Linked DNA regions of Homo sapiens. The protein of the gene in region 2 purifies or fractionates together with the protein of the main gene of each other region. This does not show direct contact. Each region holds a gene or a part of one and is shown on either strand. Other genes may lie near its edges. The genes, in order: ATE1, REG4, KLHL26 and HTRA1.

Evidence for each region.
Region 1: the proteins of REG4 (region 2) and ATE1 purify together in Homo sapiens (affinity purification with mass spectrometry; 2 studies listed by BioGRID and IntAct, with this or other methods). This does not show direct contact.
Region 3: the proteins of REG4 (region 2) and KLHL26 purify together in Homo sapiens (affinity purification with mass spectrometry; 2 studies listed by BioGRID and IntAct, with this or other methods). This does not show direct contact.
Region 4: the proteins of REG4 (region 2) and HTRA1 purify together in Homo sapiens (affinity purification with mass spectrometry; 2 studies listed by BioGRID and IntAct, with this or other methods). This does not show direct contact.

What each region holds. Positions count from the first base shown.
Region 1 is NC_000010.11:121,918,016-121,925,038, reverse strand, and holds part of ATE1 (arginyl-tRNA--protein transferase 1), read left to right. Parts: intron 1-709; coding exon 710-773; intron 774-2,627; coding exon 2,628-2,690; intron 2,691-7,023. UniProt on the Homo sapiens protein: Involved in the post-translational conjugation of arginine to the N-terminal aspartate or glutamate of a protein. This arginylation is required for degradation of the protein via the ubiquitin pathway. Does not arginylate cysteine residues.
Region 2 is NC_000001.11:119,801,461-119,808,483, reverse strand, and holds part of REG4 (regenerating islet-derived protein 4 isoform 1 precursor), read left to right. Parts: intron 1-5,318; coding exon 5,319-5,416; coding exon of another isoform or gene 5,417-5,656; exon of another isoform or gene 5,657-7,023. UniProt on the Homo sapiens protein: Calcium-independent lectin displaying mannose-binding specificity and able to maintain carbohydrate recognition activity in an acidic environment. May be involved in inflammatory and metaplastic responses of the gastrointestinal epithelium.
Region 3 is NC_000019.10:18,632,147-18,640,027, forward strand, and holds the start of KLHL26 (kelch-like protein 26), read left to right. Parts: upstream 1-4,881; 5' UTR 4,882-4,908; coding exon 4,909-4,991; intron 4,992-7,881. UniProt on the Homo sapiens protein: May play a role in endo(sarco)plasmic reticulum (ER/SR) mitochondrial signaling. May be part of the ubiquitin-proteasome system (UPS) and affect ubiquitination and degradation of target substrates in cardiomyocytes.
Region 4 is NC_000010.11:122,485,553-122,492,575, forward strand, and holds part of HTRA1 (serine protease HTRA1 precursor), read left to right. Parts: intron 1-3,349; coding exon 3,350-3,449; intron 3,450-3,869; coding exon 3,870-4,074; intron 4,075-7,023. UniProt on the Homo sapiens protein: Serine protease with a variety of targets, including extracellular matrix proteins such as fibronectin. HTRA1-generated fibronectin fragments further induce synovial cells to up-regulate MMP1 and MMP3 production.

The DNA.
Region 1 (7,023 bases), on a different chromosome or scaffold from region 2:
ATCAGGAGAACTAATAAGCACAAAACATTTTGCTAAGTTTTCTGAAGAGACCAGCATGTTAAATCATTGGGGATATTTATTAAAGTTTGAAGGTCTGATGCAGTCTGATTGCAGTGAGGACTTAAATTTATGCTGTCATAGAGACTATTGACTAATCCTCAAATAAATATAATTAACTTCGATGTGTTTTTTTGAATGAAAATATATATAGTGTCATTCTTTATTTGTGCTGTGTGTATGCCCAACTAACAGCTGTGAAGTATGTACAAACTTTTCATTTATCCAATATGAGTGTTTTGGAATTTTAACCTAAACACTCCTATTTTTTTTTTTTTTTTTGAGATGGAGTCTCACTCTGTCGCCAGGGCTGGAGTGCAGTGGCGTGATCTTGGCTCACTGCAACCTCCGCCTCCCGAGTTCATGTGATTCTCCTGCTGCAGCCTCTTGAGTAGCTGGGATTACAGGCGCCCGCCACTATGCCCAGCTAAATTTTTGTATTTTTAGTAGAGATGGGGTTTCACCATGTTGGCCAGGCTGGTCTTGAACTCCTGACCTTGTGATTTGCCCGCCTTGGCCTCCCAGAGTGCTGGGATTACAGGCATGAGCCACCGTGCCCGGACACACACTCCTATTTTTAAACCTCACACTTTGAATTTAAAAAAGAAAAAAGGTTACCCTGCCGTAATTAACACACTACTTATTTTTTCAGGCATGTGGGCACATTCCATGACAGTACAGGATTATCAGGATCTCATAGACCGAGGATGGCGAAGGTAAAGCTTCCAGATACAAAGAGACTTCCTACTGTTACTCAGGTTCTTGAAAAATACAGCATGCCTTTGAAATGCTTTCCTGTTGGAAAGAGGTTTAAGAAAAATTTTTATTATATTCTTTTATGTAGTGATTTTTTGTCTCCTTTTTAAAAAACTTTGTTAGGAAAATGTCAAATATCTATAAAAGCAGAGAGTACATTAGAATGAACCTCAAGTACCTATCACTAAGCTTCAGCAGTTATTAACGTTCTGCCAATCATGTTTGATTCTCCTGCTCCACCTTTTAATATTTAACAGCAAATTACATCAGTAGGTTATTATGACATTTATCCTATCAATAGATAGGCAATAAGTATGTATCTCTAAGAGAGAGGTCTTTTTTTCTTTTTAACTTATCCACAATGCTGTATCACACCTTACAAAATTAATAAAAATTCTTTGATGTTACCTGTTACCTACTTTTTATTAGATTTTCCAGATTGTCTCAAAAATGTCTTCTTTAACAGTTTATTTGGATAAGGATTTCCTTAAAGTCCACACATGGCCTGTTTTGAGTAGTTATTTTTATGTGGATGATTTTTAAGTAACTCTTAGGTAAAGTTCCTTGTGTAAATATAAGTAATATTAAATACTGTACGCTAATACTTGCCAAAGACGTGGGATTGGGAGCACCAGCTGAAATATCACAACTTTCCTTAAACTTAATGAGATTCAAAAGGTAGACATAGGTCAGATTTTAAAGGACTTCACATGCCATGATAAGGAACTTTTTTTTTTAGAGACATGGTCTCGCTCTGTTGCCCAGGCTAGAGTCGCTCTCTTGCCCAGGCTAGAGTACAGTGCCATCATCATAGCTCACTGTAACCCCAAATTCCCACACTCAAGTGATCCTCTTGCCTCAGCCTCTGCAGTGGCTAGGACTACAGGTGTGCATCACAACACCTGGCTAATTTTTCAGTTTTTTGTAAGATCTTGGCTATGTTGCCCGTGCTGGTCTCGAACATCTGGTTGCAAGTGTTCTTCCAGCTTAGCTTTTCAAAGTGTTGGGATTATAGGTATGAACCACCATGCCTGGCCAGAACTTTTTAGAAGGCAGTCATGGAAGGATTTTATGGTAAGAGAGAAATGTGAAGGAATTTGTTTTAGAAAAGATTGTTCAGATGGCTGAGAGGTATTTGAGGGGGGGTCATAGAGGCAGGAAGATGAGTTCAAAGGTTATTGCGCTATCCAGATGTGCGATGATGAGGACTGTCACCTTAGTGGCAATGGTGATAGAGAAGAGGGGACAATTTAGGATAGGGTTTAAAATGAAGGAAAGCTTGCTAATAGGATATAGAGGTGAATTCCAGGGAGGAGTTTAAAATGACTCCCAGGTCTCTGACTTGAGAACAGAATGAACAGTTCTGTTAGTACCATAGACCTGGAATGCATGGAAAGAAGCGGGTTAGTTTTGGGGTACTCCGTGCTGGTGCATGTGGAATACCCAAGTGTGGTTGTCACAGGCATCACATACATGAGTCCCACAGCATCGTGGGCATTTCTCTCATTGCCCTTGTGGTATTGGGGATTGGTGGCAGGTGAAGGCAGAGCAGGGGTGGCAGATGCTGGTGAGAGGGGAACTGAGATGATTGGCCGTGGGGTACACAAGTAAAGCTTTAGGAAATAAAAGGCAGGGTTCTAAACTTTGCTACACGCACTTTGAAGATTATTTGGCTTATGAAGAGTAATTAAACCTACATGCATTTCTACAATGTTGATTAGATTTTTAACCTTAATTTAATGCTCCTGTGCTAGGCTGTTTTGGTGCAAGTGAAAAATATATAAGACATTAACAAACTATTTTTATAATTTTAGAAGTGGAAAATATGTGTACAAACCTGTCATGAATCAAACATGTTGTCCTCAGTACACAATAAGGTAAGAATTTTAATTAGTAGAAAGAGGATTTATAGTATGAAGATTGTGTATAATATTTTAGTAGTCTCTTGTGCTTTTTTAATGTTTATTTCCGCTCTAGGTAGATGTCCTTTAAAAGGAAAAGTAAATGAGTTATGTCTTTTCTTCATACTGATGCTGTATTTATGTGCTGATCAGTAGGTTTTAGTAATATTGTTTGATTGGTTCAGATATAAATATGTGAAAAAAATACCCTCTTAATTTAGCAATCTTGTCAATGAATGCCATGAAATATTGGGAAAATGTTGGTAAATATTCACATTACTTTTGGATATTAAATATTATAGGACTTAGCTTAGAATTTTCTGCATTCTGGTGTATTGCTTGACACAGTGCTTGTGTTCAAGCAATGCTACAGGCTCCTATAAATTACTTGGTAGGTTCACGTTCTCATGTTGTGGGATTCAGGAGGACAAGAGAGACCTCGGGTTAAAACAGGAGAAACTTTATTGAGTGCACTTAGGCCCAGCTGACTCAACGTCTAAAAGACTGGGCCCGGAACAAAGACTTTTATACACAGTTCACAGAAGGGGGTGGGCTAGCTTGAAGCAAGCTTACAGTGGCGTGAAAGCAGGGATACAGAGGCAGGACAAACTCAGGATTGCACATGACCGTTGCCAAGCAACCCAGATGTCCGTTATCTAGGTTTGCCTGGGCTTATCCCATAATCTTCACTATGGTGCCCAGGCAGCTGCAGTTCAGGCCTACTCAGGCTTCTCATGACATTCATTGTACTTCTCAGATAAAACAATACTTGAAGTCACTAGTTACAGAGAACAGGAATCTATGAACTCATTCCGTAAAACAAAGGAAAATTTATTTTTTCTTCTCTGCATGTTGAGTGCTGGGAGAATCTCCAGAGCACACTAGATAATATTATCAAGGCTTTTCCTGGGTCTGGGCCGTGCCTGTTGCTGCCTCTGGGACAAGTCGGCCTAATACAGGAAAGCTTATTTATCTTTCTTTTTAATTTTATTTTTCTTTAATTTCCCACCTCACTCACTTATAAGTGGGAGCTAAACCTTGGGTACTCAGACATAAAGATGGCAAAAGTAGAAGCTGGAGACTACTAGAGGAGGAGGGAGGGCGTGAGCTAAGGGTTGAAAAACCAACTTGGTATGACGATCAGTACCTGGGTGGTGGGATCATCCATATTGCAAACCTCAGCATCATGCAATATATCCAGGTCACCAGCCTGTACCTATACCCCCTGAATCTAAAATAAAAGTTGAAAAAAAAATTAATTGGAAGGAAGAGGGCTTAAATTTAATCTGCCACTTACACTTAGAGTCCAGTTTTTTTTTTTTTTTTTTAAAGAGACGGAGTCTCGCACTGTCGCCTGGGCTGGAGTGCAATGGCGCGATCTCGGCTCACTGCAACCTCTGCCTCCTGGGTTCAAGTGATTCTCCTGCCTCAGCCTCCCGAGTAGCTGGGATTACAGGTGCCTGCCACCACGCCCGGCTAATTTTTTGTATTTTTAGTAGAGATGGGGTTTCACTATGTTGGCCAGGCTGGTCTTGAACTCCTGACCTCATGATCCACCTGCCTCAGCCTCCCAAAGTGCTGATATTACAGGCGTGAGCCACTGCACCTGGCCCAGAGTCCAGTTTTCTTAAATGGGAAACTTAAACCAAAGTCTATTTTCCTACAAAGTCTTCGTTGGATTTTTTCATAATCTTTTGGATTTTCCATGTACCTTCTCACCTCACCCTAACATAGAAAAATCTTCTCTCTTATTCTGGTTATAAGGTCATCATCATCTTTTTCTTCTTTTTTCTTTTTTTTTTTGAGACAGGGTCTTGCTCAGGCTGGAATGCAGTAGCACAACCATGGCTCACTGCAGCCTGCCTGCCAGGCTCAAGTAATCCTCCCACCTCAGCCTCCCAAGTAGCTGGGACTGTAGGTACACACCACCAGGCCTGGCAAATTACATTTTTTTTTATAGAAAAGGGGTCTTGCCATGTTTCCTAGGCAGATCTCACCATGTTTCCTAGGCTGATCTCGCCATGTTTCCTAGGCTGATCTCCAACTTCTAGGCTCAAAGGAGCCTCCTGCCTCAGCCTCCCAAAGTGCTGGGATTATAGGTGTGAGCTACTACTGCACCTGAACCTTTTTTTTTGATAGAAAATGTGAAAAGTGCGTTAACATTTTGAAGCATGTATTTGCCCCCAATTTCAATGTGTATATATACTCATAAAATTAAAAGACAGTTTTACTTTAAGAAATGAAAAATTAAAAAATTAAACAGTTTTTTGTCCATTAGTTTTTTTGTTTGGTCCTCAAAGCTGTCTCCCTTGGTTGCTCTTAACTTGTTTTTGGGTTGCAAACCATTTTGAGAAGTCGATGAGAGCTGGCCTCCTGCCCAAAGGGATGTAGACAAAAATATGTAACATTTTGCATATCCTCCCCACCGAGACTGAGTCTTGCTGTGTCACCCAGGCTGGAGTGCAGTGGTGTGATCTCAGCTCACTGCAGTGTCCGCCTCCTGGGTTCTAGCAGTGCTCTTGCCTTAGCCACCTGAGTATCCGGGACTACAGATGCCCACCGCTAGGCCTGGTTAATTTTTGTGTTTTTAGTAGAGACGGGGTTTCACCATGTTGGCCGCGCTACTCTCGAACTCGTGATCTACCCACCTCAAAGTGCTGGGATTTCAGGCGTGAGCCACCATGCCCAGCACATTTTGCGTGTTAATTTTAGAATGATCGCAGACTCCCAAAGGTTCACTGATACTTGATTAGGAGCTTTTTTTTTGAGATGGAGTCTTGCTGTCGCCCAGGCTGGAGTGCAGTGGTGCTATCTCGGCTCACTGCAACCTCTGCCTCCCGTGTTCAAGCGATTCTCCTGCCTCAGCCTCCCGACTAGCTGGGATTACAGGCGTGCACCACCACACCTGGCTAATTTTTTTGATATTTTTAGTAGAGATGGGTTTCACCATGTTGGCCAAGCTGGTCTCGAACTCCTGACCTCAGGTGATCTGCCCGCTTCAGCCCCCCAAAGTGCTGGTGTATCTGGAGTTGGTTCCTTCTGGTGGGTTCTTGGTCTCGCTCACTTCAAGAATGAAGCCGCAGACCTTCGCAGTGAGTGTTACAGCTCTTAAATGTGACGCAGACCCAAAGAATGAGCAGCAGCAAGATTTATTGTGAAGTGTGAAAGAACAAACCTTCCACAGTGTGGAAGGGGACCCTAGTGGGTTGCCACTGCTGGGTAGGGTGGCCAGCTTTTATTCCCTTATTTGTCCCTGCCCATGTCCTGCTGATTGGTCCATTTTACAGAGTGCTGATTGGTCCATTTTATAGAGTGCTGATTGGTCCATTTTATAGAGTGCTGATTGGTCCATTTTACAAACCTCTAGCCACAGAGCACTGATTGGTGCGTTTTACAATCCTCTAGCTAGCTACAGAGCGCCGATTGGGGCGTTTTACAATCCTAGCTACAGAGAGCTGATTGGTGCATTTTACAATCCTCTTGTAAGAAAAGTTCTTCACGTCCCCCCCACCCCCGCCCCGACCCAGAAGTCCAGCTGGCCGTTGGATTGGCAGAGGATGAGAAAAATGGGGTCTGGTTTGCTGACACTGTGTCATTACACAAAGAATAGAATGACAGAGTATCCTGTGCTGTCCTCTTTCAGTTTTCGTGGTTATAAAGAGAAGGTATCTTCTAAGGCAGAAGTCATTTGTCTTCAATTAGCAATTTATTGGATTATGGACAGGATTCTATTCATAAGTTTGAAGTTGATTGGCTTAATCTGTGATCAGAAAAGGGTGATTTCGATTGGTTAAAGAAAAAAGAATCTAAATTGTATTTGGTGCCTGTTACATGGAAAGCACTATTCTAAGCATATTGCCTTTATAAAAGGGGATTCATTAACATTGCAAAATAAAGTAGTTATGTGATTTTTGCATTTTACGTGGCATCAAATGTTTCCTGAATTGCGTCTCTTTGTAATTCATTATACATCATCTTTTTTTTTTTTTTTTGAGACAGAATCTTGTTTAGTCTCCCAGGCTGGAGTGCAGTGGCGCGATCTCTGCTCACTGAAACCTCCGCCTCCCAGGTTCAAGTGATTCTTCTGCCTCAGCCTCCTGAGTAGCTGGGACTACAGGCGCATGCCACCATGCCCTGCTAATTTTTGTATTTTTAGTAGAGACGGGGTTTCACCATATTGGCCAGGTTGGTCTGGAACTCCTGACCTCATGATCCGCCTGCCTTGGCCTCCCAAAGTGCTGGGATTACAGGCGTTGAGCCACTGGGCCCAGCCACATCATCTTTTTATGGAGTCATTTTCCATATTTAC
Region 2 (7,023 bases):
TTAAGGGTAAGTTATAATATTAATTTGGCAAGTTTATTGTGAAGGGCAGAGATAATGTGTTTGAAACACCTGTTGCCTAGCAGATTGTCAATAAGTCATAGCCATAATTAGAATTCCCCAATGCTTATGCACTGGTTTATCATTTTGAGCATTATTAGGGATTCCAGTTTGCAAGGTACCTACAATCTAGTTAGAGAGATGGCGCTTATACATTTATAGATCACACATCAAGTGCAAAGTAACATGGCAACAAAGTGGGTAGCAATATTGTAGAATCCACCAATAGAGAAAGCAGGGGAGGAACAGTGTACGAGTGAGCTAAGAAGAAATGTCACAGAATACCAGAAATGGAAGGAAATGAAATGTGATCTCATCTGGTGTAATGTCTTTGTTCTATTTACAAGGAAAATGAATTCCAGAAAAGGGTAGAGATTTGCCCAATGTCACACAGTAAGATTAAGTGATGCTTGGGCTTCTAGTGCCTTTCACAGTCCCATGTGGCTTTGCTGGGTGTTGGACATGTAAGAGTGAGTGAAGAATCCATACTTGAGCATTGCCTCTGTTGAGAAGAGGGCTTCCAGAGGGGACCAGTGCTATCTGTTACTTAGTACTGCTACTGCTGGGGAATGCCCTTGGCCAAGGGTAGGACGGTTTGGAAGGACATACTAAGAGAAGCAAGGTTCTTTGGGCATCATTTTGGCCCCTATGGCTGCAGTCTGCGGTCCTGGTCATAGTTATCCCTAATATGTCTTTCATGGCTCTTTGTCTTCAACCCTACACCAGTTCACTGAACTATCGCAGGCTGCTCAGGACCTGTGGAACTCAGCCATGCAAAGGAAACCATGCAAGAGAGTGCAAGGCTCTGGGGGGCTGCTCTTGAGCCCCTCCTGCAGAGCTGCCTTCTGTGGCCATTTCTATGTGGCCAGGTGGTTCCCTGCCACTCTTGTTCTGTGCTGACTTCAGACCTACTTAGTGAAACTTGAAATTTGCCCAAGCTATATCCTGGGGAATGTGATACAACCATCTTCCTATCCCTGGGATCTCACTAAACTCTCTGGCTTCTCTCCTGAGGAGGAGATGCAGACACAAGATTCACTACAGGTCCTTCAATTTCTCTCTTCCAGATAGATCTTCCTTCCAGCTGCAGAAGGACATTCTACTTATTCTTACTATCTTGGGGGAACCTCCCTTATGACATATCCTAAATGTTCTTTGCACTGCTGTACTTAAGAGAAATAGAGGGGACTTAGAAATTAATTTTCTCTCTCAATGAGACCTTGTAGTGAATATTAAACTCTTATTGCTTCCACAGTGAGTTCTTTGTCCTGATACCTGCCCTTCACCTGAAGCAATTCATGGCATTGATTCAGTGAGTGGAGAGACATAGAGCAACATCATTTATGGACACTAAAAAACTTCATCTGGCTTATCTTTTCAAAACTATTACATAATAATGATGATGGGTTTTAATAGCTTCAGGTTTTAACTAGCTACTATTTGTCGAACAATTCCTATACACTAGGCTCTGTGCTAATCACTGTACGTGAATTATCTTAATTAATCTTCCCAACAACTGTGTGAAGAAGGCATATATTGTTGATCCCACTGTACAGACAAGAAAAGTAAAGCTGAAAGAGATTAAATCATGTTCCTAAGGTCATACATGTAATAAGTGAGGGAGTAGAACGAGTATTGGAGTAGTCCAGGCAAGATGCTAGAAGCTGAAACCTCTTGATACTGCATGTGTAGAGATGACGAGCTCTAGCACCATGTGAGGTGGGGTCAAGGTTCTAAGGCCACCATGGAAACATTGGCTTCTCTCCCAGTTTCCACCACACTCCCCATCTGGGTAACCTCAGCAGGTTACTCGCCCCTGTGAGGAGGTTCTCTTCTCTGTACAATGGAAATGGTTATCCACACCTATCTCTCAGGGAGGCTCTGGTAATTAAACAAAATAATCTCAACGAATGTGCTTGACCCATGTAGGATTTAAAGCAATAACTTGAGCATCATTACTAAGATGACTAAGACTTGGAGTCAGACTGTCTGTCTGGGGTCAAATCTTACCTTTATCATTTATTTGCTGTAGGATCCTGGGACACGATGTCTTCTTTCTGCCTTTGTTTCTTCATCTGGAACGTAGGAATAATGACAGGGTTATTATGAAGATGATTAGAATATATGTAAACGGCCTGGACCTGCATCGGGTACATAGTAAATGCTCAATAAATGTGTGGAGTAAAGCCGGGTGCGGTGGCTCAGGCCTGTAATCCCAGAACTTTGAGACACCAAGGCGGGTAGATCACTTGAGCCCAGAAGTTCCAGATCAGCCTGGGCAATGTGGCGAAACTCTGTCTGTCTCTACTAAAAAAAAAGTACAAAAAACTAGCCTGGTACAGTGGTGCTCGCCTGTAGTCCCAGCTACTCAGGAGGCTGAGGTGGGAGGATCACCTGAGCCCGGGAAGTCGAGGCTGCAGTGAGCCGAGATGGCGCCGCTGCCCTCCAGCCTGGGCGATGGGAGTGGGGTAGTGCAAGGCAGAGCCATAGCGCAGCAGAGCGGCCGTTGGTTGCATATCTAGGAGCTAAAATGTCTCCACCAAGGAGCTCACGGCCACAGCCGCAACTTGCAGAGTGTGGGGCAGAGGGGAGGGGAGAGAGATGAAGTGAGGAAGGAGGAGGGGGAGAAAAAGAATGAGAGTCAGGGAACAGACAGTCATAGGCAAGGAGGAACACACATAGGCACAGAGAGAAAAGAGAGAGTACAAAGACAGGGAGAGAACGGAGAGATACATAGAAAGTCAAAGACAGAGATGCACAAACAGAGAGATGGTAAGACAGAGAGCAGCACTCAGAGAAACACAAAGAGAGACAGAGAAAGGGGAGAAAGAGAAGAGAGAGAGTCATGATTGTCTGGGCTCCGGCGTGGTCTTCCAAGTCCTCTGCGTGTGTCCCTCGGCCCTCTGCTTTCATGGCTTGGATCCAGGGGAAACAAAGACCGTGGTGGTAGAGGGTCTGTCCTAACATGTTTGCTCACGGAAGGCCAAGGACAGTTGCTTCAGAGTGCACAAGACCAAACCAGGAGCACCAGGTGTGATGCCAGGGGTCTTTGTCCTCGGGCCAAAGGTCAGAAATTTGGGTTCCTCTTTGCCACCTCTTTCAGAACAGTCTCACTGGTATTACATTGGAAGGCATGTTTTCGCAGCTGTCCCTTTCTGAAATTTAAGCCCATGTCATTATCTGCCCTCTGGTAATCAATGGCCAGCCTTCTCTTAAGAAGATCAATTTTTACGTAAAGTGCAAGGATTTCTTTTCCTCCTGAGAAAATAATCAAGGCAGCCCAATTAATTATTTCTGTTGCTAAGTTTTGAATTTCTCGTTTTTATAAAGGTTGGGAGGGTTGGTGGCAGTAACATAGATTTTTAAATCATAGAGAACTGGATCTGCAAAGCAGCTTTTCCATCTTACTGTGTGACCGTGGGCAGATGACCATCCTGAGCCTGTTTCCTCACCTCCTCAAGCAATTATGATAAAAATGCCATATGGATAAAACACCTAACATGGTGCCTGGCATCAAGAAAGCACCTTGCAGGGTGAGGGGCAGAAAGGGGAGGGGAGAGAGATAGAAAAGTGAGGAAGGAGGAGGGGGAGAAAAAAGAATGAGAGCAGAAAACAGTCACAGACAAGGAGGGACACACAGAAACACAGAGACAAAAGAGACCGAGATGTAGACAGAGTGCAAAGACAGGTAGAGAACAGAGAGATGATAGAAAGTCAAGCACCTTATTTACAAAAGCTAGTGACAGTGGTACTAGTAGTAACGGCAATGGCATAAAGGCTGTGTTTTATTTATCATAAAATTATGTTCATGTTTATGAATGTAGTAGAAGATGAAGCATTTAAATACATGAATATCTTTGCTGTTTGTTTGTAGTATATTTGACATACTCACTGAAACATTTCCTGCCTTGCCGTAGTTAGGTTGGTCATTATTCATTATTCATAGGTACAAGGAATAGCACATACAAAGGATCTAAAGCTACACTGAGCATTCGTGTTCCAAGACGGAGCTGGGACTATGGCATAGAAGGATGTGGCTGGATAGGGGCATACAACCAGGTTATAAAATCTCTTACATGCTAGACGAGCAGAGAGCTCATCTGAAAGCAATGGGGAGCCCTGGGAGATGCATAGGCAGGGGCTGAAATAAAACAGAAGAGTGGGGCAAACAAGCGACAGTAGTATCATTTGAATGAGGAGAGAGAAAATGCTGTTATGACAGCTGCAGTCTGTGGACCTCCCTTATGGAAGGAAACACTTTTCACCCACCATGGTGTCAGAAGGTAGCCACATAGTCACAAAGCCTACACTTGCTAGCTTGACATCCCCTTGATCACCTGATGCCTCTGTACATCCAGCCATCTCCCCCTCTTTATAAACCTTCAGATTCAGTGACATGGCACATTCACCAATGGACTAGCAGGAAAAGCATGTGCCTCCCTGAATCATGGATTCCTTTGCTTCTAGGCCCTGGCTCTTTCCTATTTCTGCCATGGTTGCCTGACAGACACCCTGTACTTAAGGCAGACTTAAGTGCTTGCTGTTTCTATCCTTCCCCACACATTCCTGCCTCCTTTGCCTAAAATGTTCCCTCCCCCAGTACTGACACATAGCCCACCTATGCTCAAGTTCCAGTCAAGTTGCCATGTAACCCTTCCCTTGTCTCCCAAGCCAAAGTGACTCCTCCCTCCTTGGAATGCTCCAAACTACCAATTTGTGTCCCTCATCCACTCTTGTGATGCCTTAAATTATAGTTATTTGACCTTCACTGCTAATACAAGATTCTGCCAGCTGCTGAGAATCTATTCCAATTATGAGTGTCTATCTAGTCCAATTATGTATGTATGTATATTCCAATTATGCATTCCAGAACTGGGGAGATAACCACAGCATGGGTTCAGGGGACCCACTGGACTCACTGGACCCACTGTGAGGCAGATCAAGCTAAAACTCCATTGATCACCTGACTTCCATAACCCCTACTCTGACTGGTGGACCGCAGTGACGTTTTCTTGGAATTAATGTCTGTTCAGAGGCAGTGTCCAGTAATCGCAGAAACACAGTCACACTGGTAAAAGGCCATAGGTCCCTTTGGGAAAAGCCAGAAGAAGGGTAAGCTGTATACATTTTTGGCAGTGTAGCAGGACCCTTCATGAAGGGACTCTCTTCATTCAAGGGGTTCCTGATTGCAAACTGTATCAAGTCTGGGAATTGATTGTTTTTGCTATCATAATGTGCAATTGCCTTTTGTTTATGTGCAGATATCATCATGAGACCCAGCTGTGCTCCTGGATGGTTTTACCACAAGTCCAATTGCTATGGTTACTTCAGGAAGCTGAGGAACTGGTCTGATGCCGAGGTAAGAAACTTGCTGCCTGCTTGGCCTGGCCTTTCTAGAGCAAAGGACCAGCCAGAGCCCCAGATCTCATTTGATTCAGGATCAAGTGTCCTTCCTGGGCACTATGAAGAGAAGCCCCTTTGGCTGGTGAAATGGAGAGAAGAGGGTTGTGTGTTCAACTCATTCAATTCTGTAAGCATTGCTGAAGCAGGTGCTGTATGCCAGACCCTAGATGGGCTACAAGCACATACGGATACATAGGAAAGAGCCCCTACCCTCAGCAAGCTCACTGTCAGTAAAGGAGACAGAAATACATCAATCAAAGGAGGAAGAGAAGATGAGGAATTCACAGAAAGGATAATGGAGTTTCTGTACAAGATTTACCAGAAAGAGAGTGGTGTGTAGACATGCCTGGAGCAGACACCTTGGAGCCGCTGACAGAAGGTGAAGCAGTCCAAGAAAATGTGGAAACTTTTCCGCTGCTCTACACAGTCCACAAACCTGTCCATTTTATTTCGTTGAAGCTTTGTCTGAGAGATAACCAAATAGACAGTCAAAGTAAGTTATCTCAGCCACATATGGGGAGTGGATGCTGCTGAATTGTGATTAATTGGGGGAGCCATATAGGTACATTTGGCATGATCTGGGCCTATGCGGTCTTACAATCCCTGTATAAAACTAGACAATGAAAAACAGAAAACAAAACAAACAAACAAAAAAACAAGAACGAAGCACCTACCACATGCCAGCTACTGAGGCTATGAAGGTATTCTCCCGCCTTAGAAAGCCCAGGATTAATGCAGGATTGCGACATTTAAACAGAACATTTCCATACAGCATGAGTATAAATGACTTTCCCAAGTTTACACTGAGAGTAACTGACACAGCAACCCCAGCAAAGTCTGAGCTGAGTCCTGAATAATTGTATAAAAAGGGGAGAGAAACAGAGTGAAGAAAGGGTTTCCCAGACTCTGTCCCAGGAAAGAAAATGAGCTCGTGGAGAGGAATAGACTTTCTCTATGAAAACAGAGGGAACAAAGAGGAAGATGTCTGGGAACCGAGGAGTAATAGAGACCTGAGTTTACATCACTACTCTGCCACTCCCTAGGTACCTCCCTTTACCTGTTTCCCTACTGGAAAGTGGGATAATACTTTTTACCTCATGGACTTGTCAGGAGGATTCATTAAAACGACTCGCATAAAGCCTATGCCACATGGTAGATGCCAATTCAGGGTCTCAAGAAAGAACAGCCCACAGGATTGACACTGAACCTTAACAAAGTTAACAGGACCAAGGTGCAGAGAGGGTGCTAGGACAGCGAAGCCAAAGAGGACCCCTCAAACCCAACAAGAGCTGTGCGGCTCCCTGATTCCTCGCCAGTGTTGCTACCGCCCTTGGCTCTTCTTGCATGGCTGGCTCTTGAGACCCCTGGAAGCTGATGGAGGCAACGTGAGAAGCACATGGACATCCGACCTTGAGCTTGAGAGGCAGAGGCCTGAGTTCTAGTTACAGCCCCAGCAGTACCAGTTGTGTGGACTGGGAGGGAGGCTATCACGTACATACTTCAAGCCTCCAAACCTGTTTCCCCTTCTGACACAGGATCTTCTGTGGCTGGTATAGAGTGGGC
Region 3 (7,881 bases), on a different chromosome or scaffold from region 2:
ACCATGTTAGCCACGATGGTCTCGATCTCCTGACCTCGTGATCTGCCCGCCTCGGCCTCTCAAAGTGCTGGGATTACAGGCGTGAGCCACCACGCCCGGCCAATTTTGTATTTTTATTAGAGATGAGGTTTCTCCATGTTGGTCAGGCTGGTCTCAAACTCCCGACCTCAGGTGATCCGCCCGCCTTGGCCTCCCAAAGTGCTGGGATTACAGGCGTAAGCCACCGCACCTGGCCAAGACCCTGTCTTTTAAGAAAATGGATAAATAAAACATAAAAAAAGAAGGTAGCCAGTCGAGGTGGCTCGTGCCTGTAATCCCAGTACTTTGGGAGGCCGAAGTGGGCGGATCACCTGAGGTTGGGAGTTTGAGACCAGCCTGGCCAACATGATGAAATGCTGTCTCTGCTAAAAATACAAAAATCAGCCAGGCCTGGTGGTGGGCAACTGTAATTCCAGAGACTTGGGAGGGTGAGGCAGGAGAATCGCTTGAACCCGGGAGGTGGAGGTTGCAGTGATATGAGATCGCGCCACTGCACTCCAGCCTGGGCGACAGAGTGAGACTCTGTCTCAAAAAAACAAAACAAAACAAAAACAACAACAAAAATTTAAATAAATAAATAAAACATAAAAAAAGAAGGTGGGGCCAGTGCAGACATGACTTCAAGGAGGTGCGGGAGGCTGCTGGCTGGGGTAACAGAGAGAGATCATGGTGTTTGTCAGCAAGCCTCACTCATGATCCTGAAAGGATGTGCCGCCTCCATTAAAAAAAAATTTAGGGCCAGGCGCAGTGGCTCACGCCTGTAATCCCAACACTTTGGGAGGCTGAGGTGGGTGAATCGTCTGAGTCAGGAATCCAAGACCAGCCTGGCCAACATGGTGAAACCCTGTCTCTACTAAAAATACAAAAATTAGCCAGGCGTGGTAGTGCATGCCTGTAATCCCGGCTACTTGGGAGGCTGAGGCAGGAGAATTGCTTGAACCTCGGAGGCGGAGGTTGCGGTGAGCCAAGATTGTGCCATTACACTCCAGCCTGGTGACAGAGCGAGACTCTGTCTCAAAAAAAAAAAAAAAAGGTAAAACACAGAGTTTGTTAGATAGGAGAAAAATCAAACAGGACTGAGGACAGGGAGTTGATGTCGGGGGACCTTGGGCTTGCCCCAGGACCACTCCGTGGTGACTGCCTGATGGGGCAGACACTGTCCCCAGCCTAAAACCACAGGAACTTGAAGCCCTCCCCCAAGGCTTCACTTTCCTCCTCCATAACACCTGGGGATTGTAAGGGAGGCCTCCAAGCTCTGACCTGAGGGTGTGAGCCCTGCAGCTGGTCTGAAGTGGGAGAGCAGGTGGCGCGGGCCCTGCCTCTAGGAGAGCCGTGCCAGCTGTGGGCCAGATGGTGGCCAGGCCCGTGGATGCTGCCTGCTATGTCCCTGCCTGCCGGCTCTGCTAGACCACAGGTCATCATTACTGGATGAGGCGTGTGCAGTCACCGGCGTGGGCCCTCCAGGTCCTCCACTTGTCTCTGCTCCATGCCAGTGATAGTGGCCTCTAGAGCTCAGGCCAACAGCTCTGGCAGAGGTCACTGGCCTCACTCTGCCTCACTCGACATCCCATCTGTTCCATCTCTTTTTGGTCCCACCTGCAAAGTGCATCTCAACTAGGACTACCTCCCACCCCTCCATGTCTGTCACCCTGGGATGAGCCCTACCCATTTTTCCCTGGATTATATGCCTCCTGACTCATGTCCCAAATTCAAGATATTGTCCCCCAGTTGTCAGACACTGTTGAACAGTCAGACACTGTAACACTGTTAAATTGACACTGTTAAAACCAATGTCAGCTGGGTGCAGTGGTTCACGCTATAATCCTGGCACTTTGGGAGGCTGAGGCGGGCAGATCACTTGAGGTCAGGAGTTCGAGACCAGCCTGGCCAACATGGTGAAACCCCGTCTCTAATAAAAATACAAAAATTATGCTGGGCACAGTGGTTCACTCCTGTAATCCCAGCACTTTGGGAGGCCAAGGCAGGTGGATCACTTGAGGTCAGGAGTTTGAGACCAGCCTGTCCAACATGGTGAAACCATCTCAACTAAAAATACAAAAATTGGCTGGGCGTGGTGGCACATGCCTGTAGTCCCAGCTACTCGGGAGGCTGAGGCAGGAGAATCACTTGAACCTGGGAGGCGAAGATTGCAGTGAGCTGAGATTGTGCCACGGCACTCCAGCCTGGGTGACAGAGTGAGACTCCATCTCAAAAAAAAAAAAAAAATTAGCCAGGCATGTGGTACATGCCTGTAGTCCCAGCTACTCAGGAGGCTGAGGCAGGAGAATGGCTTGAACCCAGGAGGCGGAGGTTGCAGTGAGCTGAGATCGCACCACTGCACTCCAGGGTGGGCCACAGAGCAAGACTCCGTCTCAAAAACAAAACAAAACAAAACAAAACAAAAACCCAGTGTCAATTACATTGCCACTGCTTACAAGCCCCCTCTCCCTTCTCATTTCATGCAGAGGACCCCAAAAATGATCCCCAAAGCCCTCTGTGACCTGAAGCACCTCCTGTTGCCTCCCACCCATTCTCCTCCCCTCTCCTCTCCCTCTTCCTAATTTTTCTCTGCCAGGCCACTCTCTAGGCACGCTCCTGCCCCAGGGACATTGCACTGGCTGCCCTGTGCTATGTGATCGTGGAGGACAGATCACACAGTGTGTCCAAAGTGCAGTGAGTCTACAGCACACTATGTGTGTGTGCACAGCCAGGAGCCCAGAGAACCTCTTCTTTCTTATCTTCAGCTGTGTGTCTTGTGTGTCTGACATATGGGTCAAATCTGGATGTTTATGAAGTGTGCGTGCATATGGACACCATTGATTTCAAATGTTATTTGTGGCGGGTGTGTCAGCTGTAGGTCGCTGCTGAGTGAGGTTTGATGCCTGCATGTGGTTCGTCTGGAACAAAGACTCCTGGGGCGGTGCTGACTTAGGGCAGGCAAGGGTGTGTGTGTGTGTGTGCAGAGCTTGCCGGAACGTGAGCTGTTCATGCACGCGTGCATTCAACATTTGCAGAGTGCTTACTGTGTATTGGAGATGCCAGCAGTTCCCTTCAGCACTTGGTATCTGTCAGCTTGCACAGGGTCATCTGAGAGCATTTTGTGTAACGATTGAGCACGTATTGTTGTATCAGGCCCTCTGTTGGAGATGCTGGTTGAGTGCGGTCCAACCTGCAGGAGTCCACTCAAGCAGGCCCCTTCCTTCCTCCTATGGGGTCTCCAGCCCCATAGCCACCTCCTTCTTCCAGCACTGACGGGAAAGAAGGCTTTGAGCTCCTTCTGGATCACTGCTTTCTGCCCAAGACTGCACAAGTCAGAGTTTTCTGACTTGGAGGTTAAAAGAATAAATGAGCTCCAAGCTACAGAGGGGATCCTGGGAGCCTGGAGCTTACCAGAGATGGGGGGTGAGGGGTGCCCCCAAAAGGTCTAGATGCTTCATAGACGCCTATAGATGCAGGACTTTGAGCCCTGGCTGAGGGTCAGTGTGTTGGGAGGGCTGGTGCTTGGGGATCTGAGGGTGTTGGGTCCGGTGGAATGGACTTTGGGAGTGTAAGGTTTGAAGGATCTGTGGGCAGGGATTTGGGGGAGTGGGAGATGAGTTTTGAGTAGAGAATGGGAGATAATTGGATGTGCAGGGTTTTAGAGTATGAGAAACCAGAATTGGTGTATGAAGCAGGTGGTGGGAACCTAAGGCCAGATGATTGGGGTCTCAGGGTGGAGGCTCTGAAGAGGGTATGTCAGGGGAGGGTGGGGAACCATGAGGGGCTGGAAGTCTGAGGCCTGGGCATGGGTGAGTTTCGCCCCTGAGAGAGGCCTGGGAAGGAGGTAAGACTGGAGTCGGGGTGTGCAGGGTGGGGAGAGGGAGGGTGTGGTTCTCAGAGCTTAGAGACCCATTTCTCCATGCTCCATCTCACCCTCCCTCCCACCCTACCTATAACTCACTTCCCTGTGGCTCCAACGCCTCAAAGTATAACCACGCCCAGCCAACGCCCGGGGCACGCCTGCCAGCGCCCCAGGGCACTCACAGACACTCCTTAACACCTGCACGTGCCCCGCCCCTCCTCAGATCCGCCGCTCACTTAGCCCGGCCCCACCCCCATCAGATGAGGCTCCGCCCCCCCGGCCCCGCCAATCCCTCGCCCCCTCCACGCACACACCCCTGATCTTCCCCGCCCTCCTTCCAACCAGACTCCACCCCTCGCCCAGGCCCCGCCCTTCCTCAGACCAGGCCCTCTCTTCGCTTGACCACATCCATCCCCAGATTCCTCCTCTCTCCTGCCCAGACCCGCCCAACCTCAGACCCATCTTCTCCTTTCTACCTCCCCGACCACTCCCCCACCGCATTCCTAACCTCCACCTTGTCCCTTCTCACACCTGGCCCCGCCCTTTATCCTGCGCCCCGCCTCCTCCGCAGGCCGGACCCTTGTCCCTCCTCCTCTTGCCCTGGGCCTGCCCCTTCTTCAGACCCCGCCCCACTCCTCAGCCCAGGGACCAACCCCATCCTGCGCCTACTTGTCCTGCTTCGCCCCGTCCCCACCTATCCACAGACAATACGCCCTCTCAGCCCAGAACCGCTTCCCTTTCAGACTTGGTTCCGCCCCTCACGCCAGGGTCCCGCCCCAATCCGGCACCCCTAGCCCAGGCCCCGCCCTGGACCCACCTCTCTGCATAGCAGGCCCCTCCCTTTATCCCAGACCCGCCCCGGCCCTCCGTAGACCACGCCCCTCCGATTCCGGGCCCGCCCCAATCCTTGGTTTCTGGTCCCGGCCCCGCCCCTCCGCAGACCTGGCCCCGCCCCGCCCCCCGCGTCTCGGTTTCCCGGGCCTGCGCGCGCGGCTCCCGTCACTCGAACGCGCGACGGCGGGGGGAAGATGGCGGAGTCCGGCGGTAGCAGCGGTGGTGCTGGTGGCGGCGGCGCTTTCGGCGCGGGCCCGGGCCCCGAGCGCCCGAACAGGTGAGACCCGGCCCGCAGGATAGACCTGCACCTGTCTTGGAGCCCAGGAAACCTGTGGGCAGTCTTGGGCGTCCTGAGGGGTTGAGGGGAGGCCTGGCACGGCTCGAGGGTCTTTCGCTGAGAATTTGGACTTTACGGGGCCGTGGGGTACTGGAGGAGCCGAGGGCTACTGAGGGGGTGGCTGGAGGGGGGCTGGGTGCCCCAGGACCTCGAGGCGTCTGCAGGCGGCCCTAGGGACCTGAGAATCCTGGGGGTCTGAAGGGAAACCGAGGGGCTCTTGACTGTGGTGGGCCGTGGGGCAACTGGGGATGCCAAAGGGCCTGGGCAGCAGAGAGGGCCTGAGCAGGGGCCATGCCATGGCCAGTCTGAGGGTGGTGAGGTGTCTTGGGGGCTCTGAGGAAGGGGCTAAGGCCCAAGGCATCCTGGGAGGTGCTGAAGGGCCCCAAGGTGGCTAAAGGTGGTCCTGAGAGCGTGCTGAGGGGCGCTGGAAGGAGTAGAGACTGTGGGAGGCTCTGGGTGGGGGACTTAGGTGAATCTGGGAGTCTGAGATGGGGAGGCTGAGGGGGCCTGGGGTGGGTCTAGGGAACCTGAGGGGGGTGAGAGAACTCCAGGGGGTTTATAAAGAACATACAGAGGGTTCTTCTTTGGGGCTCCTCCCTTCCATCCCCATGGGGTCCAAATCCACATCCCCAACAGGCTAAAGGACTTACAGAAAGGTCTTGCCCTCAGACAAGGGGACAGAATTCACCCCTTTGGTCAGAGGGAGGCCCCCTTTCCCCATGGCCCAGTCCTGACATGGATTGCTTGAACGTCCAGGTTTGCATGACAATTAGTTATCATCAATAACTAATGATATGTGTGTGCATGCATTGTATTGGATTGTCAGAGGGAAAGAACACCTGCCTTAGGAGTGTGATCTCCTGCTCTTTTCCTATTGGGCAAAGCCAGACCCTCCCACCCCAGCTCCTCCTCTAGCCCAGCACCCAGGTCAGGCCAAGGAGGAAATTCAGGCTTTTTCTTGCTGGTGAGCTTCCAGGAGCCAGTAATTTCAGGCAACATGATAAATGATGAAGTTGTTTGATACTTACGTGCTGTGGAGTTTTGGACCTGTGGGCTGATTGTTGGAGGGAATGGCCTGATGGCCTGGCTGTGTGATTTGGTACTGAATGGAACACGCATGGGATGGGTGGGGAAGGGAGGAGGGATGGCTGGGCCAGGGCACAGAGGAGGCAAAGGCCCTGCCTGTTCCTGAGGATGCTGAGTGGCACCTTGAGACTTAGGTCTGTGGGCATTGAATCTGGTCTGCCAGAGGGGCCATGGGGAACCCAGGAGGTGTGTGTCCAGAGGGGTGACCAGCCTCCTGGGGTAGGTGTGGGGCAAGATTGTCCTGCAGTAGGGAGCCAGGAGATGTCAGAGGATTTTCAGAGATATTCAGGGAGTGGCCAGGGCTTGAAAATTGGGTATCAGTTGGCAAGTAAGGGACAGGGAAGAGGGACAGTGAACCCCAGGTCCCTGCCTTGGGCACTGGAGTGGGATAACCTGGGGCTAGGGCTTTTTTTATTTTTATTTTTTTGAAACCCCGTCTCGCTCTGTCACCCAGGTATCTAGGCTGGAGTGCAGTGACGCCACCAAGGCTCACCGCAGCCTCAAACTCCTGGACTCAAGTGATCCTCCCACCTCAGCCTCCTGAGTAGCTGGGACTACAGGTGTGCACCACCACACTTGGCTAATTTTTAAATTTTTTGTAAAGACCAGGTCTTGCTCTGTTGCCAGGCTGGTCTCAAACTCTTGGGCTCAAGCAATCTTCTTGCCTCACCCCTCACTAAGTGCTGAGATTACAGATGTGAGCCACCATGCTGGGCATGGCTCTTTTTTTATAAACAGCTTTATCAAGATATAATTAATTGCATGGCATACAATTCACTCATTTTGTTTTTATTTATTTATTTATTTTTTGAGACAGAATCTTGCTCTGTCACCCAGGCTGGAGTGCAGTGGCGCAATCTCGGCTCACTGCAACCTCTGCCTTCCAGGTTCAAGGGATTTTCCTGCCTCAGCCTCCTGAGTAGCTGGGACTACAGGTGCCCGCCACCATGCCTGGCTAATTTTTGTATTTTTTAAGTAGAGACAGGGTTTCACTGTTGGCCAGGCAGGTCTGGCATTCCTGAGCTCAGGTGATCCACCCGCCTCGGCCTCCCAAAGTGCTGGGATTACAGGCGTGAACTACTGCACCCAGCCAATTCACTCATTTTAATTTATCATTAAGTTTTTTTTTTTTTTTTTTTTTTTTTTGAGATAGAGTTACTCTGTTGCCCAGGCTGGAGTGCAGTAGTGTGATCTCGGCTCACTGCAACCTTTGCCTCCTGGGTTCAAGCAATTCTCCTGCCTCAGCCTCCCGAGTAGCTGAGACCACAGGTGCATGCTACCATGCCCAGCTAATTTTTGTATTTTTAGTAGAGACGGGGTTTTGCCATGTTGGCCAGGGTGATCTTGAACTGCTGACCTCAAGTGATCTGCCCGCTTCAGCCTCCCAAAGTGCTGGGATTACAGGTGTGAACCACTGTGCTCAACCCAGGTCATTAAGTTTCAGTACATTTACTGAGTTGTGCATCCTTCACCACAATCCAGTTTTTTGGAATGCTTCCATCACCCCAAAGAGTTCCCCCAAGCTCGTCTGCAATTAACCCTGCTCCACCAACATACAGCCCCGGGGACATCCTGATCTGCTTTCACTCTCTGTAGCTTTGCCTTTTCTAGAAATTTCGTAAGAATGGAATCAGACATGTGGCCTTTACGTCTGGTTTCTTTCCTTAACATAATGTTTTTGAAGTTCATCTGTGTTGTTGTATCAGAAATTTGTTCTTTTTCACTGTGGAGTGAAAATAAACAA
Region 4 (7,023 bases), on a different chromosome or scaffold from region 2:
GGCTGCTCAGTGGACTGAGGCTGGAACTGGGCCTTCCAGTGGCCAGGCCAGATCCTCCTTGATCTCCCTTGTTGCTTTCCTGGTGGGAAGACCCTGGAACCACTTTATGTGACTGTGTGAGAAGGGAACTGCCTCTCATTTTACCCAGCAAAATCCACCTTCAATCCATCTTCATTTTTGCCCCTGGTGTGGGCAAATTCTCCCATACCTAATTCAGGAAGCCAGAAAGAGGAAGTGAGTTAATGATCCTTAGTGGGAAGGCGCTGGTAATGGTCCTTCTTGTGAGAGTTTCTGAAACACCACGCTGTCTCTGTGTTCTGGCCTGGCTGGAGTTAAACCTCTTCTTGGCCTTTCCCCAGGAAGCTGGTCTGAGGAAGCCCAGATGCGTTTGTTTACAGCTGTCTGGTGACATTCGCCAGGCTCTGTTTTCAGAAGGAACATTTCCATTCCCTTATTTACACCTCCCATTGGAGTGCTCGGGGGGACACACCAATTATTTGCAACTACCTGGAAACCTAGGAGGGTAGCAGATCTGTAGGAGGCCAGTGTTGAAGTGAGAAGCTGTAGATCTGGTGACACTGTGGGCTTGGGAGGGCTTGCCCAGATCTGTTACTTATACTCTCTATTAAGAAACTTCAGTGTCCATGGAGAAGTTATTTAAAGTCTGCGAGCCTCAGTTTCCCCATATATAATATGGGAAGGATACCTGATTTTCCTATTCCACATGAAGGTAGAAAAAATTAAATTAAGGCAGCCAATGAAAGGGTTTTGAAAGCAAAAATAATAATATGATACTGTTCTGAATTTGTTAAATTATTCTTCCAAGTAGTTGCAGATCTTTTTCTGTACCTTAGAAAAAAACCATGCTATGTAAAAGGAGATGATTCCAATCTTTAAATAAAGCAACTCAGAGGTCAGGGGCTAGGACAGAAAACGGCCCTTTGTTCACAGAAGCGCTCTCACTTCCAAGAAAGCAAGCGTGGGAGAGGCAGGTGGTCCTCCCGATGTCCCTGTGCCCCATGGTGTCAAGCTGGGTTACTATGGCCCTTCGTGACCCAGTGCAGCAGGGATGTGGGAACCAGTGGGTGTGAAGCTGTGACGGGTCACAAGAGGGCTGGGACGTCTCACAGCTTTTACTTATAGCCTAGAGCCTGGGGAAGGGTTGCCACTCTAGTGATGAGAGAGGCGTGTGTGTGTGTGTGTGTATGCGTCTGTATGTATGTGTGCATTTGCATGTATATATGTGTGACTGTATGTATGTGCACATCTGTGAGTATATGAATGTGTGTGGAAGTGTGTATAGGTGTTTATGTGACAGTTTGTGTGTAAATGTGGGTGTATGTGTGGGTGTGTTTATGCATGTACATCTGTGGGTGTGTATGCATAGTGTGTATGTGTGAGTTTGTGTGTGTGTGTGCATTTGCATCTCTGTGTATATATGCATGTGTGTTAGGGGCAGGCACACAGGCCTGTTGGTAAATGAGACACAAAATACCTACAAAATACAAAATGTGAGACAGGAAATACAAGCCCCAGTTACTCATTTTTCAGTGCAACAGACATAAGATTACCATGTGAAATTGCTATGAAAGTTTCCGAAAGCTTCCTGTCAATTCGTAGTGAGCAGCTAGCAGAGGAGTGCGGGTCCCTGGAGCCTGCTTGTGCAACGCTGAGCTAGTCCAAGGGGGAAGAATGGGGTGCATGGCTCTCAGCTGCAGACCAGCCTGGAACCTCTCCAGCCTGCTTTAGCAGAGACTTGTTAAGAGGTAGCAGCAGGTGGCAAGATTAGGAGCCGGAGTAGTAGGCTAAGGCTGCACTTCCAGGGACACACTGCCTCTGCCACCACCCGTGCCACGAAAATGGGAGCCCAGGACCCTGAATCTCTAGCAGTCCGTTTCTGAATCAGTTACCTTGGGTATGTGCCTCTGGTTGATGGAAACTAACTTGTAGCCCTGCTGGGTGAGAGCCTCACATCGGGACATGTGACAGCTTTGTTGAAAGTAGCTTTGGAAACGCCCACCACGTGGGGCCACTCACTGTAATATAAACGGTCATGCATCACTGAGCAACAGGGATACGTTCTGAGAAATGCGTCGTTAGGCGATTTCATCACTGTGGGAATGTTACAGAGTGTGCCTACGCAAACCTAGATGGCAGAGCCCACTCCACACCTAGGCCAGATGGCAGAGCCTGTTGTTTCTAGGATGCACGCCCGTACAGTAGGTTACTGTACTGAATACTGTAGGCAGTTGTAACAATGGTGAGTATTTGTGTATTCAAACATAGAAAAGGTATAGTAAAAACAATGGTGTTATGGTCCGCGGCTGGCTGAAACGTTATGTGGTGCATGACTGTAGGTATAAAGCATTACAGTTGTTTGATTTTTCTCTTTTTCTCACCCACAGTCTTAAGGCACCTCTTATGCCTTTTGTCTGGGATGTCCCGGGCAGGGTTGGAACGTGTGGTTAAGGCATGGCGGAAACTGCTTTGGGGACAGACGATGGCCTCAGCTTGCCTTGGGGTGTCAGTGGGAAAGATAGGAGCTGCCCCTTTGCCTTCGTGTTTCTTCGTAATAATCTCAGATGTACCCGTCTGGTGGGCCTCTCCTAGAAAAAGCCCCGGTGCTCTTTGCTCCTGCGGTGTTTCTCAGGAGGGTTGTTGCTTCTTTGTAATGGTGGGGACTCAGGGAAGGGACGCAGGCAGAGGGTGATGCCACATCAAAAAGGGACCCTTGGCTGGGTGTGGTGGCTTACGCCTGTAATCCTAGCACTTTGGGAGGCCGAGGCAGGTGGATCACCTGAGGTCAGGAGTTCGAGACCAGCCTGGCCAACGTGGTGAAACCCGGTCCCTAGTAAAAATACAAAAATACAAAGGTGGTGGGTGCCTGTAATCCCAGTTACTCAGTAGGCTGAGGCAGAAGAATCGCTTGAACCGGAGAGGTGGAGGTTGTGATGAGCCAAGATTGCGCCATTGCACTCCAGCCTGGGTGACAGAGTGCGACTCCATCTAAAAATAAACTGAAAAAAAACAAAAAACAAACTTGGGCCATCAGCTTCTTGGAAAGGCTGGTGTGAGGTTGAAGCATTTGCTGGTGCCTCTGCTCAACGTTTTTGTGGTGAACCTGAGCAAAGAGGTTATCATTAGTGGATTTTACTGCCTTACCTGGGTGGGCACTCCCTTGGGAGGTGGATGGACATTTGCAGCTGAGCCCAGGTGGGGGAATTGCGCTCACTCCGCCTTCAGAATTCCAAAGGCTGGGCATGCATCTTGGCTTCCTCTAACCCATGTCTTTCTCTAGGTGGCCACAGCAGAGTGTCATTAAGTATCTATTCTTTGCTTTTGTTCTCAGGGCAGGAAGATCCCAACAGTTTGCGCCATAAATATAACTTTATCGCGGACGTGGTGGAGAAGATCGCCCCTGCCGTGGTTCATATCGAATTGTTTCGCAAGTAAAGAGAGCCTTCCTTTTTCCTATAACCTCCGAAGCTTTCACCGCCACTAGCAAAACATGAGAGCTATTTTTGAGATACATTAAAGTGTCAAAGTGTCACTGAATATCTTCCTACTTAAGATAAGTGTGTCTCCCTTAGAACATTTTCCCTATTCGACTATATAAATCTACATTCTTGACCCTTCTGAATGTTTAAAGAACCTCGGGCTCTGAAGAGATTCTCTAAGAATATTTTGTAAGTGGAAGTTTTTGATGCATGCAAAAAATTGGCAGGATGTTTAGTGTTTAAATGCTAAGCCCGATATATAAAGGAGCGATGGCTAGGTGTGTGTGGCTGTTGCACAACCCATTAATCAATGCGTTGAAGCGTTCATTTTAAGGTGCTACAGGCTTAAGTGTGTACTCCTTTGGATTTTAGGCTTCCGTTTTCTAAACGAGAGGTGCCGGTGGCTAGTGGGTCTGGGTTTATTGTGTCGGAAGATGGACTGATCGTGACAAATGCCCACGTGGTGACCAACAAGCACCGGGTCAAAGTTGAGCTGAAGAACGGTGCCACTTACGAAGCCAAAATCAAGGATGTGGATGAGAAAGCAGACATCGCACTCATCAAAATTGACCACCAGGTAAGGGTGTTCTCGCCTGCAGAGGTGAGTTCTCAGATGCCCCGGAACACCCTTGGCAAAGGCACCAGAGCTCTCTGATTGCAGCTGATTCTCGGGGGGCACTGAAGCCAGTCTGAGCCAGTCACAGGAGGGCCTTGAGGAGATGCTGAGTATGGCCTGGGGGTGTGGGAGAGGAAGGGGCTCAGGAAAACTTCTGTAAGGAGCCAGATAAAAGTTTTTAAAATAATGTTTTAAATGTTTGTCAAAGAAAGCAATAGATTTGTAAAGAAATTAGTAGGTAAGTAGTGAAAATTGATTCTCCTTCCCATTCCCAATCCTGTGGCAACTCTTGTTACAGATTTTATTTATCCTCCACAGATACATCATGCGTTCACAATGAACATAGAATTTACTGGGTTTTAGACTGAGCCATCCTTAACTTGTCAACAGTTACTTTGAAAACAAACCAGCTCTCCCAAATTGGGGTTTTGCGGGGTTATGAGATGTGTTTCAAAAGAATGTTTCGTACTTTAAACATCTTGGAAAACTTGAATTAAAACAGAGCTAATGGATTTCTTCTTTCCAGACCTTCTCAGAGCTTTTAGTATGCTAGTGTGCACGTGGCTTGCCTACAAAAGGGTGTTGACTGAACTATTTGCCCAAATTATAATCATTTGAGTATACAGCTTTTTGTGGGGGCAGGCAGAACTGAGACATACCAAAATCAGTTTGGGAAATGCTGTATTTGAAAATGCTTTCTATTTAAATATTCTCTTTGCAATCATTTTTGCTCTGTTGATTTGCTTAGCAAAGTCTTCATGTCTGGGACAATATCCATTTCTTACTGACTCATCAAAAACCCCCACTCGACACGTCGATGAGAGAGGTTTTGTTTGCTGTGTGGCATGTTCAGTGAAAGCGTGGTTTCCAGTTTCTTCACATCCTTATAATTTTCTAGACTTCAGATGGAGGGAACAATCAGAGGAGGCTGGAATCCTGCCTCTGACCAAGGAAAAGACCAGAGGCTGAGCCAGGTGGGGTCTCTTGTCCAGCCCTCTGCTTGCCTCGCTTTACCTGGGTGTGGGCTGAGTAATTCCAGACAAGCGTGGAATTAATCTGGCTGTTTGTGCTGTTCAGTGGCACGCTGGTTACACCTCCTTCTGGAAACAACTCTGCGTGTGCTGTTTGGGTGGTAGGATTCCGGGTCTCCTTCTCCGTCTTTTTATAACATCAAGTTGCTGCCCAGCTCAGGCTCCTTTACGGCCAGTCTTCAGAAAACCACCAGCTAACACATTTACTACCCTCCTTCCCCGATGTTCCTGTAGCTTCTCTATGGCTGGGTGGCCAGGCATGGCCGAAGAGGCTCTGGGTAGATATAGGCTCTGTGCCCGGTGTGTGTAACTGGCCTTGAGTGAGGCTGCAGTTGTGTGTTATTTCTATTAGGTCACTGTGGAATTTCTAGCGACAACTAATCTTTCAAAGTGTGTTTATTGGTCACAGGATTATTGGGCCAGCCTCTGCCTTCATTCTTTTTCACCTAATCTGCATAATAGCTGTGTTATCCCCATTTTAGAGAAGAAGAAACAGGGGCTCAGAGAAGTCTAGTAACCTGTGTGAGGCCACACAGCAAACACCTCATGACCCTGCCCTCCTAAGGCAGCCCATGGCTACTGCTGGAGGGATAGAGGCCGGCCCCGTGGTTTGATGGGACAGCTTGACCTTAAACAGCCCATGGGAAGGCGGGTGCATCTGGTTTAGGAACAGGCTGCTAGAAAGGTATCCAGGATGTGGTAGTCTCACCGGAAGGAGCCAGTCAGAATAGCACAGCCTGTGGCCACGCGTGGGACCTGTTCAGCCTCATGGAGCTTTGGGAGGCAGCCAGCAGCAGGGCATGGGCTGTGTGCAGGCGAGGCGCTGGCCTGGACGCCGCCCCCACTGCGTAACTTCGTGTTTGGAATGCGTGGGCACATACCGTGCGGCTGCTTCTGGCCGGGGGATATTCTTTTCCAATTTTGAGCCAAGGTGGAGACTGTCTCCTCGTGCCATCCCTGGCATGTCCTGGCAAGACGTGAACGATCTCAATAGACGAGCTTTGCAGAGTGTGTCTGACCTGACTCCTGCTGTCTTGGGAGTTTAGCTCTTCAGCCAGCAGCATGCTGTTTGACATGTGTTTCAAGCCCCCCAAGAAAGGGTGCTTGAAATTTAAAATTGAACTGATGTGGCTTTTCAAAATGGAATTGGAAATGAAAGGATATTAAATTGCAGACACCCACACAAAAGACTGGTTTCCACTGACTAAACTGCTTTTTTTTGCTGATAGTAGTTGAAAGTAGGGAGAGTAACAGCATCTCTTCCAGCTTTTTCTCTTTTGTTCCCTTGTTTTGATGATGGGTTATTTCGGGGGAAGCTCTGGCTGGCCTTGCTTTGTGTCATCTTAGGGATAACAAAGAGGATGAAAGAGATCAGGAAAACCGAGAAGGCAGAACAGAACCAGCAGAAACTGTGCTTGAGGAATGAAAATCACCTACACGGCTCCTTGTCATATGAGACTGTGGCCCAGCCTCCTGCAAAGCCATTTAAGAGTAACCCAGTGAAGCTGGTGAGACTGCCTGCCGCGTCCGTGGGCCCAGTGACTAACTCGGTGGCTTATCATCTGGGCCCAGCTCCTCCCCTGGCATCCTGATTTCACTTGGAGGGGCCCCCGTTGTCCTTCATAAACATGTTTATTTCATTTTATTTTTATGTTTTGAGACAGAGTTTTACTGTTGCCCAGGCTGGAGTGCAGTGGCGCCATCTCCGCTCACTGCAACCTCCACCTCCAGGACTCAAGTGATTCTCCTGCCTCAGCCTCCTGAGTGGCTGGGACTACAGGCGTGCACCACCATGCCTGGCTACTTTTTGTATTTTTAGTAGAGACCGGGTTTTGCCATGTTGGCCAGGCTGGTCTCAAACTCCTGACCTCAGGTGATC